Linked DNA regions of Homo sapiens: region 2 is linked to region 1. Evidence: fine-mapped expression QTL. Tissue or cell type: whole blood. Region 1 holds a variant in brackets; the other region holds the start of a gene. All regions are shown on one strand. Distances are from middle to middle.

Region 1 (8,057 bases):
ACCTCTGCAGGTGCAGAGACCCAGCTTCCTCCATCACCTTCTCCCGAGGACCCGGGTCCAGGCCTCCCTGCAGGGTGAAGCCCTTGTTCCGGCCTTGTTCTTGTCACTACACTGCACCGCACGTAGCCGGGATCCCCGGGAACCCCCTGTGCTCTTTGGTCTCGTTCCCCACCTGAGCCACGGGTCAGCAGGGCCGGCCATGATGGGGCCACGCTCAGGGCTTGTCTGAGGCCGGCTCAGAGGTCATGTGTACCTAGGGGCAAAAGTCCCTCCAGTAGACCCATTTGGAAGGACACTCAGCACCCCAGAAGCCATGGTTCTGGGCCGGGGCAGGGTGGCCACCTCTCCCTTGTGGGGTGGCCCTCTCTTGCCTGCTGTTCTGGGAAGCACGTGGCAGCGGAGGGAGGCGGAGGGCTGGGGTGATGGCTCCTTCTTGTGGACAGCCCTGCTGGGCTGTGGGGAGGACGGAGGACAGGGCGTGTGGACCCCTGACTGTGACCACCGTGTGTGCTGGGTCCTCAGCAAGACCTGAGCCCAGGCCCCGAGGTCGGCTGGGAGATGCTCAGCTGAGCAGGCGCTGGGGTGGGCTCTGTGTCCCAGGTGTGAGCTGTGTCTCAGTTATGCGTTGTGCCTGTCCCAGGTGTGAACTGAGCATGTCCCTGGTGTGAGCTGTGCTCTCACGAGAGCCCTGCCTGCCTCTGTGGTCAGCTCTGGTGCCCAGGGCTTGGTTTTAGTGTCAGCTGGGTGTGAGGGTGTGTGTCTCGGGTGTGAGCTGTGTGTGTCCCAGATGTGAGTTCTGTGTTCTGGGTGTGAGCTGTGTGTTCCAGTGTGAGCTGAGTGTGTCCTGGGTGTGAGCTGTATCCCGGGTGTGAGCTGTGTGTTCCACTGTGAGCTGTCCTTGTATCAGGTGTGAGCTGAGTGTGTCCTGCGTATGAGCTGTGTGTCCCGGGTGTGAGCTCTGTGTTCCGGGTGTGAGCTGTGTGTCCCGGGTGTGAGCTGTGTTTCCCGGGTGTAAGCTGTGTGTCCCGGGTGTGAGCTGTGTGTTCTGGGTGTGAGCTGTGTGTGTCCTGGGTGTGAGCTGTGTGTCCCGGGTGTGAGTTGCGCCTGTCCCGGGTGTGAGCTTTGCTCTCACGAGAGCCCTGCCTGCCCCCTGCGGTCAGCTCTGGTGCCCCGGGTCTGGTTTTAGTGTCGGCTGGGTGTGAGGTGTGTTGCACCTGTGTGATTGGGTTCCAGGTGTGAGTGTGTCTCTGGGTGTGAGGTGTAGGACGGCCAGGTGTGAGCAATGCAGACTTTCTGCGCACCCTCCCCTTGGGGCTGTGGGGCCCTTTGTGGGACCCGGGTGTCCACCGTCTCCCCGATGCGATCTGTGTACAAAGGGCTGGGGGAGCGGAAGCCCAGGGCTTGGGGGCAGCAGTCTTGTGCCTCCTGGGTGTGAATTGCGGGCCCTGAGGATCCTGGGGTCTCTGAGCGCCCCCAGCCACCCCGGGTTGGTAGACGGGAGCCCATCCCCCCATCCTTGCAGCCCGCACCCCCACCCCCCAGCTCAGCCACCATAGCAGGGACAGGAAGACGGGTTGAAATCTTTAGAAAACGCTTGAGAAACTGCAAAAAAGACGCATGCTGATGAAAAACAGTCCTGCGGTTGGGCGTCTACAAAAAAAGGGGAAGTTCTGCCTGGGGAGCGCCGTGCAGCCGTCCCCTTCCCCTCCGGGAAATGCATAGGTGGACACGCGAGCGGCCGGCCCGCGGGGGAGGGGAGGGGAGGGTCCGCCCTGGGGACCCCTCAGATCATCTTCATGTTGAACTTGCGCGCGCCTCCCTGGCCCGCCGCGGCGGCCGGCCCATCCACCTTGCGGAAGGAGTACTCCACCGAGAAGTTGTTTTTGTGCTGCCCGCGGCCGCGGCTCCACACGAACAGCAGCACGAAGCAGAAGAGGACCACGCCCAGGAAGGTGATGCAGCCCATGGCGGTGGACACCAGGATGGTGGTGAGGTCGAGCGGCGCGCGCAGGGCCGCCAGCGTCTCGTTGTGGGCCTCGCCCGGGGTCCGGTTGGCGGCCGGCTCGGGGCGCACGGTCAGCGTGGCGAAGTAGGTGTCGTTGCCGCCCGCGTTGCTGGCCACGCACGTGTAGGTGCCGCTGTCCTGCGGCCGCGCGTCCTGGATCTCCAGCGTCCCCCCGGGGAGCACGCGCGCCCGGCCCGCGCTGGTGGCCGTCACCGGCCGGTGCTGGGGGGTCACCCAGGCCACGGTGGGCGCCGGCTCGCCCTCGGCGCGGCAGAGGAAGCGGACGTCTTCGCCCGCGGTGGCCGTGACGCGCTGCAGCCGCCGCTCCCGGATCTTGGGTTTGCGGCACACGAAGTACTCGAACAGCACGGAGTCCGGCAGGTTTCGCAGCGCGTCGCCGCGCACCTCGGCCGGGGTGGCGCAGGCCGGCAGCCGCCCGTCGAAGTTGAGGGTCTTGCGACGCTGCACGATCCACAGCAGGCGACAGTCGCAGGCCAGCGGGTTCCCGTCCACGCGCAGCGTCTCTAGCGTGTTCACCGAGTGGAAGGTGCTCTCCTCCAACGTGGAGAGCAGGTTGTTGGAGAGGTTGAGCAGGCGGATCTGGCGCAGGCCCAGGAAGGCCTGCGGCTCCACCACAGCCAGCAGGGCCCCGGCCAGGTGCAGCTCGCGCAGGCGGACCAGGTCCCGGAACGACCCCCGCGGCACCGTGCTGATGGGGTTGTGCGACAGATTGAGGCAGGTGAGGTGCGCCTGGTGCCGCAGCGCGGCGGCCGGCACGGCGGTGATGTTGGTGTGGGTGACCGACAGCGAGGTCAGGTTCAGGCCCCGCAGGCTGCCCGCCGCCACCTCCTCCAGCAGCGGCCAGTTGTCAATCTCCAGGTGCAGCAGCCCGGGCAGCCTGCGGAAGTTCTGGTCCTCCAGGGAGGCGATGGCCAGGTGGCGCAGCCGCAGGGCGCCCAGGCTGCGCAGATGGCCCAGCGACTCCCCGGACAGAGCCGTGAGGTTGCAGCGCTCCAGGGTCAGCTCCTCCAGGGCCAGCAGCCCCGCGAAGGCGCGGCGCGAGACGAATACCAGGTCGTTGTCGCCCACTTCCAGCCGGCGCAGGCTGTGCAGGTCCTGGAAAGTGTAGTCCAGCAGGATTACCAGCTTGTTCTCGCTCAGGTCCAGCAGCGTGAGGTTGTCCAGGCGCGTGAAGACCCCGGGCGGGATGAGCTTCAGCTGGTTGCCACGGAGACGCAGGACGCGCAGGCGCGGCAGGTTGGCGAAGGCGCCGGGCTCCACGTGCGCGATGGCGTTCTCGCTCAGGTCCAGCTCCTCCAGCGCGGGCAGCGCGGCCAGGTCGCCCGGGTTCAGGCAGCGGATGCGGTTGCGGCTGAGCTCCAGCAGGCGGGTCTCGGCCGGGATGCCGTCGGGCACGGCGGTCAGGCGGCGGCGCGTGCAGGCCACCGCGCGGGTCTGCACGGTGCACTCGCAGCGGGCCGGGCAGCCTCCAGCCGGGGGCGGCGCCGCGGGCAGCAGGAGCAGGGGCAGGCTCAGGACGCACAGCCAGCAGGTCATGGTGCGGAGCGTGGGCCTAGGGCCGCGCCACCATCCTCCTGCGCACCTGCGGGCGGGCGGGGAGCGGGCAGCGTTAGCACCGTTAGCACCCCTCCGCGGCGCCTCTGCCGCCAGCCCGCCCCTAACCCGTCCCAGCACGGCGGCTCGCTCCTGTAAACCCAGCATTTTGGGAGGCTGAGATGGAAGAATTGCTTGAGTTCAAGAGTTCGAGACCAGCCTGCACAACATAGCAAGACTCCCATCTCTACAAAAAAATAAAAGATGAGCCGCATGTGGTGGTGTAGGCCTGTGGTCCCAGCTACTCAGGAGGCTGAGGCAGGAGGATGGCTTGGGCCCAGGAGGTGGAGGCTGCAGTGAGATATGCTTGTGCCACTGCACTCCAGCCTGGGCAACACGGTGAGACCCCTGTCTCTTAAAAAAAAAAAAATTAAAAATTAGCTGGTTTTCAAGTAATTGTGAAATATTGAAAAGTTTACCCAGGCATGGTGGCCTGCACCTGTGGTCCCAGCTACTCAGGAGGCTGAGCCAGGAGGATTGCTTGAGCCCAGGGGGTTGAGGCCACAGTGAGCTGTGATCGTGCCACTGCACTCCAGCCTGGGAGATAGAGCAAAAAACCCTGTCTCAAAAAAAAAAAAAAAAAAAAAAAAAAGCAGCATTGATCCACCG[T/C]GTGGCTGCAATTCCAATCTCCTGGGTTTTTTTGTTTTGTTTTGTTTGTGTTTGTTTGTCTGTTTGAGATGGAGGCTCACTCTGTCATCCAGGCTGGAGTGCAGTGGCTTGATCTCGGCTCACTGAAACCTCCACCTCCCGGGTTCAAGCAATTCTCCTGCCTCAGCCTCCTGAGTAGCTGGGATTACAGGTGCCCGCCACCACGTCCGGCTAATTTTTGTATTTTTAGTAGAGACGGGGTTTTACCATATTGGCCAGGTTGGTCTCAAACTCCTGACCTCAGGTGATCCACCTGCCTCCGCCTCCCAAAGTGCTGGGATTACAGGTGTGAGCCACCGCGCCCACCCGCTCCTGGGTGTCTTTGCATAAGAGAATGGAACACACAGCGCACGGAAAACCTGGGAACATTCACAGCCGCATCTGTAACAGCCAAACAGTGGAAAAGGCTGGAATGTGCCCCAAGGAATGGATGGGTCAGCACCGTGCAGCCACCCACACACGAACACGACTCAGCCATGAAAAGGAGTGAGGCTCTGACCCAGGCCACGGTGGGGATGCACCTTGAGGACGCCATGCTCAGTGAGAGACGCGACACAAAAGGCCACACTGTATGACCCCGTTTCTTTCTTTCTTTCTTTTTGAGACGGAGTCTTGCTCTGTCACCCAGGCTGGAGTGCGGTGGCACAATCTCACCTCACTGCAAGCTCTGCCTCCCGGGTTCACGCCATTCTCCTGCCTCAGCCTCCCGAGTAACTGGGGCTACAGGTGCCAGCCACCACGCCTGGCTAATTTTTTGTGTTTTTAGTAGAGACGGGATTTCACCGTGTTAGCCAGGATGGTCTCGATCTCCTGACCTCGTGATCCACCCTCCTTGGCCTCCCAAAGTGCTGGGATTACAGGAGTGAGCCACCGCGCCTGGCCTTTTTTTTTTTTTGGAGACAGAGTCTCACTCTGGCCCAGGCTGGAATGCAGTGGTGCGATCTCAGCTCACTGCAAGCTCCCCCTCCCCAGGGTTTAAGTGATTCTCCTGCCTCAGCCTCCTGAGTAGCTGGGACTACAGGCACCCGCCACCATGCCCAGCTAATTTTTGTAGTTTTAGTACAGATGGGGTTTTGCCATGTTGGCCAGGCTGGTCTTGAACTCCTGACCTCGGGTAATCCACCGGCCTTGGCCTCCCAAAGTGCTGGGATTACAGGTGTGAGCCACCGCGCCCGTCCGTGTGATCTCATTTCTATGAAATGTCCAGGACAGGCCCATCCACAGACAGGGAGATGACATTTGATCTCAGACCCTGTTGTAGGTGGAACTGTGTTCCCGCAAATGTTCAAGGCCGGGCGCGGTGGCTCACGCCTGTAAATCCAGCATTTTGGGAGGCCGAGGTGGGTGGATCACCTGAGGTCAGGAGTTCGAGACCAGCCTGGGCAACATGGGGAACCCCCGTCTCAACTAAAAATACAAAAGTTAGCCTGGCGTGGTGGCGCGCATCTATAGTCCTAACTAGGGGAATCTGGGGTGGGAGGATCGCTTGATCCCAGGAGTTGAGGCTTCAGTGAGCTGTGATCGTGCCACTGCGCTCTAGCCACTGGGCAACAGAGTGAGACTGTCTCAAGGGAAAAAAAAAGGTATGTTCACGTCCTGCCCTCCGTGCCTGCTGTGCACGGGACCTCATTTGGAATCAGGGTCTTTACAGATGTGCTCAGGGCTAGATGAGACTGCAGTGGATTACAGTGAGCCTTTTCCAACGACTCCTGTCCTTACAACAAGAGGGAGACTTGGACACACACCTAGCCCTATACAGGGGAAATAGAGCCGTGTGAACACGGAGGCAGAGGCTAGGGTGACACAGCCACAAGCCGGGGATTGCTGAGAGCCCCAGGAAGCCGGGAGAGGCAGGAAGGACGCGCCCCGGGAGCTTCCAGAGGGCCCCCGGCCCTGCGGACACCTTGATTTTGGACTTCCGCCTCCGGAGCTGGGAAGGCATATATTTCGGTTGTTTTAAACCCCCCGGGGTTTGTGGCGCCGTGTTCTGGCAGGAAACAGGCCGACCCAAAAGTTGAACAGAGCCCATGGTTTTCTGGAGGAAGGGTGTGTGGGCTGGGGGAACAGCCACGGCAGAGGCCCCGAGGTGTGGCGGGAGTCTGGTGAAGCTAAAGGAGAGAGTGGAGGGGGGCGGGGAGCTGGGTTAGGAGGGGCCTCTGGGTGGGGGGCAGATGACATGGAGCCGTGGTGGCCCAGAGGAACAGGCGCCAATGCTCCGTGGGTCCTGGTAGCTGTGCCTCCTGGGCTGTTTCCGTCTCTCCTGGGAGCCTGCTGCACCCTTACCAGCTCTTCTTGGCTGCAGCCAAGATTCTGGGGGCTGGGGTGGCGGGTGGAGGTGGGGTTGGAGGGAGCGGGAGGAAGCAGCCAGAACTACCAGGCGGCATTGCCCAGCTTCTTCTGCTTGGCCGCCTCCCCCGCCAGCCGGCCGGCTATTTTTGGCATCTTGGCAGCTGAGCCCCCCTCGGCATCCCCCCAGGCCCCGTGGCCCAAACCAGGTTGTGCGTCTCCTCACGGTTCCCACTGGCCTTCGATCCTCATTTGCTAAATATCTGCGAAGGCAGCTCCCGCCTCCCCAGTGCCTACGCGAATTTAATCCCAGAGCGAACAGACGCGGAGCCCCGGGAGACTGCTTCATGTCAGAGATGAATTGTACGTAAGTGAGGACAGGGTTTGTATCTTGCAGCTGTAATTCATTAAGATGAGGTCACGCAGGAGCAGGGAGAGCCCTAATTCAATGACTGGCATCCTTATAAGAGGGAAATCTGGACACAGAGACACAGGCAACGGCCAAGTCACAACACAGGCAGAGACTGGAGTGATTCATCCACAAGTCAAGTGACACCAGGGATGGCCAGCTACCACCGGAAGCTGGAAGAGTCAGAAAGGGTCTCCCCAAAAGCCCCCAAAGGAAGCTGGACCTGCTTGAGCTTCGACTTCCAGACTCCAGAACTGTGAGAGCAGCAGCTCCTCTTGCCCGGCGCGGTGGCTCACGCCTGTCATCCCAGCACTTCGGGAGGCTGAGGCGGGTGGATCACTTGAGGTCAGGAGTTCGAGAGCAGCCTAAGCAACATGGAGAAACCCTGTCTCTACTAAAAAATACAAAAACTAGCCGGGCGTGGTGATGGGCGCCTGTAATCCCAGCTCCTTGTGAGGCTGAGGGAGGAGAATCGCTTGAACCTGGCAGGCGGAGGTGGCAGTGAGCCGAGATTGTGCCACTGCACTCCAGCCTGGGCGACAAGAGGGGAAACTCCGTCTCAATAAATACATAAATAAATAAGGTGAAACGCCAAACTGAATTCTGGATTTAGGTGGACAGGACACATATGTACAGATGCCAAAACTGGGCATTCACATGCCACGTGGAACAGCACAGAGTGTGGTGGAAAGGAAGGTGTCGCAGGTGAGAATGTGGTCCCACCGAGAGAAAAGCGAGGGGCCCCTGGTTCCCAGGAGGCCTTGGTCCTCCTGCCCCCAGCTTGGGAACATAGGAAACTCGAGGGAGGGAGGAAGGGAGGGAGCGAGAGAGGGGGCATGCCCCCCCCAACCCCGGAATCATCCTTAATCCCAACCTGGGCATGTTACAGGGAAGGCAATCCTTCCCTCCCAGCAAGCTCCCTCCCAGCACTGTTTTTCTGGGTCATTCTCTCCCGAGCTGCTGCCCTGCCGACAGCACACTCAGGGGCTGTGTCACGGGAGGGGACAAGAGTGCTAGGGCGGTGATGGCACTTTTATCTGCCCCCCGACCCTGCACCTCCCCCCTTACTGTCCGCTCCACAGTGTTTACAAAACC
Region 2 (8,057 bases), 23 kb before region 1:
GATGGTCTCGATCTCCTGACCTCGTGATCCGCCTGCCTTGGCCTCTCAAAGTGCTGGGATTACAGGCGTGAGCCACCACGCTTGGCCATTTTCCTGCTTGCTTTCATTTTTTTTTGAGACAGTGTCTTGCTCTGTCCCCCAGGCTGGAGTGCAGTGGTGTGATCACAGCTCACTGCAGCCTTGACCTCCTGGGCTCAAGTGATCCTCTTGGTTCAGCCTCCCAAGTAGCTGGGATCACAGATGCCCACCCAATCCCAGCTAATTAAAATTTTTTTAATTTTTTAAAATTTCTAGAAGTTTTTAAAATTCTCAACAAAGTGAGAACCTAGAGATAGGGTCTTGCTATGTTGGCCAGGCTGGTCTGCAACTCCTGGGCTCAAGCGATCTTCTTGCTTCAGCCTCCCAAAGTGCTGGGATTACAGGCGTGAGCCACTGTGCGCGGCCCCAATCCTTCTTTATTTTTACCTGTTTACATTTTATTTTATTTAACTCATTATTATAATTCTTTTAGAGACAAGGTCTCCCTCTGTCACCCAGGCTGCAGTGCAGTTGAGAGACCATAGTTCACTGCAGCCTTGACCTTCCTGGCTCAGGGGATCCTCCTGCCTCAGCCGCTGGAGTAGCTGGAACTACAGGTGTGCACCACCATGTCCCTAATTTTTAAATTTGCTGCAGAGATGGGGTCTGGCTATGTAGCCCTGGCTGGTCTTGAACTCCTGAGCTCAAGCGATCCTCTTGCCTCTGCCTCCCAAAGTGCACACCGGGCCCACATACCCTCTTTTAAATCAGAGTCAGCCGGGTGCGGTGGCTCACGCCTGTAATCCCAGCACTTTGGAAGGGTGAGATGGGTGGATCACCTGAGTTCAGGAGTTCGAGACCAGCCTGACCAATATGGTGAAATCCCGTCTCTACTAAAAATACCAAAATTAACTGGGCCTGGTGGCGTGAGCCTGTAATTCCCAACTACTTGGGAGGCCGAGGCAGGAGAATCACTTGAACCTGGGAAGGGGAGGTTGCAGTGAGCCGCCGAGATCATGACCCTGAACTCCAGCCTGGTGACAAAGTGAGACTCTGTCTCAAAAACCAAACAGCCAGGTGCGGTGGCACACCTGTAATCCCAGCACTTTGGGAGGCACGTAGATCATGAAGTCAGGAGTTTGAGACCGTCCTGGCCAATATGGTGAAACCCTGTCTCCACTAAACACAAAAATTAGCCGGGAATGGTGGTGCACGCCTGTAGTCCCAGCTTCTCGGGAGGCTGAGGCAGGAGAATCGCTTGAACCCTGTAGGTGGAGGTTGCAGTGAGCCAAGGTTACGCCACTGCACTCCAGCCTGGGCTACAGGTGAGACTCTGTCTCAAAAAAAAAAAAAAAAAATCAGTCCATCAATCAATCAATCAGAGTCATACTCTCTGCGTCCTCTGCCAGCAGCCGTATCCCCTCAACCTTGATTTCAGAAGAAAACCCAGGCATGGGCCCTCTATCCTTGACCACCCCACATCCTCTGCTGTCCCTTTCAGACAGTTCAAGCCTCACCACCTCCAGAGAAAGATATGCCTCTTTCTCTCCCTGCTGTCCGGGAGGCCCCTCACCAGTCACAGACTCCCCAGCTCCCAGCAAAGCACCTCCCACCCTGGGGAGTTTCTGGGGAACCCGGCCAGGTGGGCCAGCAGGGCGCAGTTGCTGATCCTAGCGCTCATCCCACGTGGCCTGGCCAGTGTGGGGGTGGCCCTTCTAGAAGCCTCACAGCATTGGCAGGCGGCCATCAGAGGCAGGCAGGAGGAGGAAGTGAGAGCTGCTGCAGTCAGGATGGAGGGATGGGGCTCCCTGGTCGTGGCTGTTCTGGAAATCGCACCGGTGACCTGTTCATTTCGAGCAGGCTCTTGCCTCTGTTCCCAGAGGAGGTCCTCAACTTAGGGGCGTCATTCTGCCCCCAAGGGACATTGGATGATGTTTGGGACATTTCTGGTTGTCATGACTTGGAGTGCTCCTGGCATGGAGTGGGTGGAGGCCAGGGACGCTGCTCAGTACCCTGCAGTGCCCAGGACGCTGCAGTCCAGCCTGGCAACAGAGCGAGACTCCGTCTCAAAAAACAAAAAAACAAAAAAAAAAGCAATCCACACCCTGAGTGGGGAAGGAGAGAGGAGAAGCATCCCAGGAGCTGGGGCCCTCCTGGTTCATACCATTTGCCCAGGATGCCCCACCCCAGAGAACAATCCAAGCCCAATGTCCACGGGTCCGAGGGAGGAGACCCTGAGTTAATTATTTGAAACAGAGTCTGTTCTCTGCTCACACCAGACACCAGAATAAACTCCTTTTTTTTGAGATGGAGTCTCGCTCTGTAGCCCAGGCTGGAGTGTAGTGGTGCAATCTTGGCTCACTGCAACCTCCACCTCCCGGGTGCCAGTTCAAGCAATTCTCCTGCCTCAGCCCCCTGAGTAGCTGGGATTACAGGCACGCGCCACCATGCCCAGCTAATTTTTGTATTTTTAGTAGAGACGGGGTTTCACCATGTTGGCCAGACTGGTCTTGCACTCCTGACCTCGTGATCCACCCGCCTCGGCCTCCCAAAGTGCTGGGATTACAGGCGTGAGCCACCGTGCCCAGCCTCAGGATAAACTCCTAATGGGGCAAACGGTATAAACCAGGAGGCCCCCAGCTCCTGGGATGCTTCTCCTCTCTCCTTCCCCACTCAGGGTGTGGATTGCTTTTTTTTTGTTTTTTTTGTGACAGAGTCTCGCTCTGTCACCAGGCTGGAGTGCAGCGGCGCCATCTCAGCTCACTGCAACCTCTGCCTCAAGGTGTGGATTTCAACGTGCGCAGTCTCCTGGGACCTCAGCAGGGCAGAGGATCATGGGATGCAGAGTCTCTTGGGGGGGTCCGTGGAATCCCCTAACTCGGGAGTCTCACCCAGGGTGATTCTGCCCCCGCCAAGGGACACTGGGTGATGTCTGCGGATACTTGTGGTTGTCACAACTGGGGGTGCTCAAGGCATGGAGTGGGTGGAGGCCAGGGACGCTGCTCAGCGCCCTGCAGTGCCCAGGGCGGCCCCAAATGTCAACCGCAGGAGTTAATTTCTGCCTCAACACCTGAATAGCGAATGCTCGTAGCAGAGATGCAACAACAGCCTTCTGGTGCAGTACGAAATCTCGAAAGACAGGCAGGCGCGGTGGCTCACGCCTGTTAATCCCCAAACTTTGGGAGGTCGAGGCAGGCGGATCACCTGAGGTCAGGAGTTCCAGACCAGCCTTGCCAACATGGTGAAACCCCATCTCTACTAAAAATACAAAAATTAGCCGGGCGTGGTGGCGGGCACCTGTAATCCCAGCTCCTCAGGAGGCTGAAGCAGGAGAATCGCTTGAACCTGGGAGGCGGAGGTTGCAGCGAGCCGAGATTGCGCCACTGCACTCCAGCCTGGGTGACAGCCAGGCCCGGTCGCAAACAAAACAAAATTAAAACCATGAAAGGAATCAGGATTTGCCAGGAGTAGCATTTTTGCTTGGTAAGAACAAAATTTTGTTTATACATGAAATAAAAAATATTTTATTAAACCTCACTGCAAAGTGGCAACTTTTTGCTAAATTCATAATTTAGTCTACACACAAGCTATGTACCCGTATGTGACTGCCAAGAGTTATATCTTTGCTTATTAAAAGCAAAGTGCAGTTCATACCTGAGATTTTTTTTCTGGATTTAACCAGGAGGGGAAATATTTTTGCTAGGTAAGTCCACATTTTACCTCACAGGCGAAACAGTTTACCGAACTTGACCACCAAAGAAATCGTTTTTTCCTTGGGAGATCCACATTTTAGTTCATACATGAGATGTGTTTCTGAATTTTAACTGCCAGGAGTAGTGTTTTTCCTTAGGGTAAGTTTCAGTTTCCACAGGAAAAATCTGAATTTATCTGCAAGGAGTAAAATTTTTGCTTAAGTCCAAATTGTACACGAAATATTTTACTAAATTTGAATATCTTTAACATTGGAAGTTCTTTTTTTTTAAACACTGGAAGCATTTTAAGAACTGCAAGACCAAATTTAAAAAAATAAAACCAGTAATATCATCGATGATTACCAGGTGTTACTGGAAATAATTCTGGCGCGGTTGGACAACCCCCCAAGCACCCGGGGGCCTACCCAGGGGAGGGGTCCCGCTGCGTGAAGGGACCCTAGGGAGGGCGACGTGGACCACGACAGACAAACGGGCACTCGAAGACCCCCGAAAATCGGCCCCAGCGAGCCGCCCCCGCCCCCAAGGCACGATTGTGGGGGCGGGGACGGCTCGGGGCGCGCGCAGCGCGTACCCGGCGCCACGGCAGCCCCGCCCCCAGAAGGACGCGCGCAGGAGGGGGCGTGGCCCGAGGCTCACCAACCAATCTCCAGAGAGCCTCTTCCTTTCCCTTTCCCTTTCACCAATCAGGCGCTGGGAGGGGCGGGCGCGACTTTTTTTCCCGGCGGCCCCGCGGCTCTGCCCCTCGTGCGGTCGCGTTCCCGGCGGCGCGGGGGGCGTGGCCTGGGCGCAGCATCTATAAAGGCGGGCGGCGGCAGAGGCGCCATTTTGCGAACGGCGAGCAGCGGCGGCGGCGCGGAGAGACGCAGCGGAGGTTTTCCTGGTTTCGGACCCCAGCGGCCGGATGGTGAAATCCTCCCTGCAGCGGATCCTCAATAGCCACTGCTTCGCCAGAGAGAAGGAAGGGGATAAACCCAGCGCCACCATCCACGCCAGCCGCACCATGCCGCTCCTAAGCCTGCACAGCCGCGGCGGCAGCAGCAGTGAGAGGTAAGTGCCCCGCCCCCGTCCGAAGCTTCCAGAAGCGCCGGCCGCGCAGGCCTGCGGGGGGCCGTCCTCGGGGCGCCAGATAGGTCCCCGGCGCGCGAGATCCGCCCCTTTGTCAAGGCCAGAATCGCGCCGGGGACGAGGTAGGCGCAGGGCGGGCCTGGAGGTCCCCCCCGGCCTTAGCAGTGCTCTCGGGGGAGTCGGGTTTGGGGGGCAAGGGTGCGGAGTTGGATTTGGGGGGCACCGTCCGGGGCGCCTGATTTGCGGGAGGGGCATGGGTCGGAGGTCGGATTTGGGCGCAGGACGGGGAGTCGGGGGAGGCGTGTGTCTTTTGCGGGGTTCGCGGGATGGGACTCGGCTTCGGAGGAGGGGAGAGGCTTCTGGTCGAGGGTTGGATTTGCGGGGCGCAGACTGGGAATTCGGTTTGGAGGAAGGGTGTGCGGTCGGGTCGGATTTGGGAGGCGCAGGATGGGGCAATCTGGTTGGGGGCGGGGTCGGCCTTGGGGGGCTGGTCCGCGGACAGGCAGGGCCCGCGGGGCTGGTGAATCTGCACTTTTCGGTCCCGGCCGTCGAGCGTGCGCTGCGGGAGCGGGGAGCGCTTTGCGGTGGACGAGCTCCCGCGGGTCCCTGTTGCCTCGATGTGGCCCCTGCACGCGACGGACCTCGTGGGCCCCGTTTTTCGCCCCTGAGCGAGTCGGTCTGGATGGCCCGGGACGCGCCGGGCGAGGCCGCGCACGTAGACGGCACCCAGGGCTTCTCCGCGGGGGCCGCCGGGGAGCTGGGGGTGGCGCACTCCGACAGCCCGGCAGCGCCCTGGGAAGACCCCCGCCGCTTCCCGGGAAGACGCGTCCCGCTTCCGGGGGCGCGGGTGCCAGCTGCGGTTGTGGGGGAGCCCGCGGGGTCTCGGTCGAGCTTTCCCGACTGCGTCCCCCGAGGTGGGCGTCGCTCAGCCCCGGATCGGGAGGTTGGGCCGCGGTGCTGGCGGTGCCGCGGTTTGGGGGCCGTGCAAAATGGAGGCAACTTTGGGGCCTGTTTACCCTGCGCAGCAAATGGCTGCTGGCGCTGCCGGCTGCGCGATTGTGAAAATCTCCCCCGGGGCGCGAGGCCGCGTCTGCCTGGATGACGCAACCGGGAGGGCCCGGGCCTGGAGCGGGGGCGGGGGGGCGGGCGGCCGGGAGCCGGAGCGGGGCGCGTCCTCCATGAGGTCAGGCTAGGCCCGCCCGGTCTTCGCGGGGACAAGCAAGAGTCCCAGATTTTGGCCGTAGTGCAGGGTGGAAAGGGGAAGCCGCGACAGAACTGAAAAGGGGAAGCGCTGGCTGTCTTGGTGGCCGGGGGGTGAGGCTCTGCCCCGGCGGGGCTGCGTGAGGGGAAGGGGCCCCCCGCCCTGGGAAGGTTGGGCTGTCCTGGGCGGCGCCGCCCGAGGAGTCGGGGCTCAGTGACTGCTGCCCTTGTAGGTGCTTGGGGCAGGCGTTGGAGCTGCCTTCGGGAAGCCTCGGGGGTGTGGGACCGGGTGGGCCCCTGCCTGGGCGGGGCGGGGTCTTTTGGCCGAGGCAGGGGTGGGGATGTGCTGAAGGCCGCCCGGACGCCCTGGAGGGGTCTCCGCCCGGAGCCTGGCGCTGCCTCGTGACCTGCATCATCTTCAGTTCCAGGGTCTCCCTCCACTGCTGTAGTAACCCGGGTCCGGGGCCTCGGTGGTGCTCCTGATGCCCCTCACCCACCCCTGAAGATCCCAGGTGGGCGAGGGAATAGTCAGAGGGATCACAATCTTTCAGCTAACTTATTCTACTCCGTGAGTATGGGGCCGGGCCTGCTGGGGCTGCTCTGGGGCCACAGGTACTTTCTTGTGCACCTTGCTGCCCGTACCTGTGATTGAATGTAATCGTGGGAACCCTGAGTTTCATCAGAGCCGGCGCACAGTCTCCTGCAGCCCAGGCGTTGCCTGAGCTCAACACGGCCTAGGCCCAAGCTTTAGCGCTGCCGGGTTCTTGGAGTCCTGTGGGGTGAGTCAGGGTTCTGAATTGGGCTGCACCCCCTGGACAGGATGATCGGCTGAATGTAACAGAGGAACTAACGTCCAACGACAAGACGAGGATTCTCAACGTCCAGTCCAGGCTCACAGACGCCAAACGCATTAACTGGCGAACAGTGCTGAGTGGCGGCAGCCTCTACATCGAGATCCCGGGCGGCGCGCTGCCCGAGGGGAGCAAGGACAGGTGAGGGGCAAGGACAGGCAGGGAGTGCTCACCCAGGGGAGCAGGGACCAGGTGAGGGGCAAGGACAGGCGGGGAGTGCTCACCCAGGGGAGCAGGGACCAGGTGCGGGTTGCTGCCCAAGGGGTGCAGGGACAGATGAGGGAGGGCACTGCCTTCAGGCAGCACATATGGGGGCCACCATCGCTTTGTTGGTGGGGACAGGGTCCCCCCTTTTTTTTTTTTTTGAGATGGAGTCTTGCTTTTGTTGCCCAGGCTGGAGTGCAGTGGCATGATCTTGGCTCACTGCAACCTCTGCCTTCCGGGTTCAAGCGATTCTCCTGCCTCAGCCTCCCGAGTAGCTGGGCTTACAGGCGCCCGCCACCGATGCCCAGCTAATTTTTGTGTTTTTAGTAGAGACGAGGTTTCGCTATGTTGGCCAGGCTGGTCTTGAACTCCTGACCTCGTGATCCGCCCACCTCGGCCTCCCAAAGTGCTGGGATTACAGGCGTGAGCTACCGCTCCCGGCCTGGGGTCCCTTTTTAAAAAGTGCACTCCAAATTCGTACCCTGGGATTCTACCCTCCAAGGGATGCCAGGCAGTGTCAGAGCTTTTCTGTCATGGGGCATGCACGTGGGTGGGTGCAGCGGTGCTGCTCAACACTGTGGTGTCAGGACGGCCCCACCCAGAGGACGATCTGGGCCCCAGGGGGACCCTGGAGTAGAGCGGGCCTCAGGGTAGCTGCTAAGGCCCAGGAGGTAGGCAGGTGGGTCGGGCCAGCCGAGACGCTGACACTCGCTGCAGCTTTGCAGTTCTCCTGGAGTTCGCTGAGGAGCAGCTGCGAGCCGACCATGTCTTCATTTGCTTCCACAAGAACCGCGAGGACAGAGGTAGGTGACCCGTATCGCCTGCAGTAGGGTGCGTGGGGGTGCCTGCGCCGCCCCTTCATTCTCAGCCCGCAGGCACGGTCTCCCTGCGGGGGTGGGGGGTGCGGGCGGGGGGTTCTGGTCGGCAGGGGTTCTGACGGCTTCTCCCCCGCAGCCGCCTTGCTCCGAACCTTCAGCTTTTTGGGCTTTGAGATTGTGAGACCGGG

Evidence for each region. PIP is the estimated chance that this variant, and not a neighbour inherited with it, causes the effect.
Region 2: OAZ1 starts here. The variant in region 1 is fine-mapped to the expression of OAZ1 in whole blood (INTERVAL, PIP above 0.99).

Annotation. Positions count from the first base shown.
Region 1 is chr19:2,288,215-2,296,271 of GRCh38, forward strand. It overlaps LINGO3 (leucine rich repeat and Ig domain containing 3), which reads right to left. Exons shown (of 2, transcript NM_001101391.3): 2 at 1-3,608. The coding sequence starts at 3,562. The coding sequence ends at 1,784. Among named protein-coding and RNA genes, the nearest start is that of PEAK3, 10 kb to the left of the region's middle. RefSeq lists silencers at 1,712-1,821, 2,282-2,351. The variant T/C (reference allele first, on the strand shown) is at 4,229.
Region 2 is chr19:2,264,967-2,273,023 of GRCh38, forward strand. OAZ1 (ornithine decarboxylase antizyme 1) reads left to right here and starts at 4,520. Exons shown (of 5, transcript NM_004152.3): 1 at 4,520-4,778; 2 at 6,419-6,564; 3 at 6,816-6,988; 4 at 7,769-7,854; 5 at 8,006-8,057. The coding sequence starts at 4,633. LOC105372240 (a long non-coding RNA gene) reads right to left here and starts at 4,287. Exons shown (of 2, transcript XR_936242.3): 1 at 4,136-4,287; 2 at 3,527-3,906. RefSeq lists enhancers at 1,554-1,723, 4,219-4,833, 7,571-7,630, 7,641-7,700 and silencers at 4,087-4,576, 5,542-5,601, 5,812-6,011, 6,022-6,361, 7,901-8,050.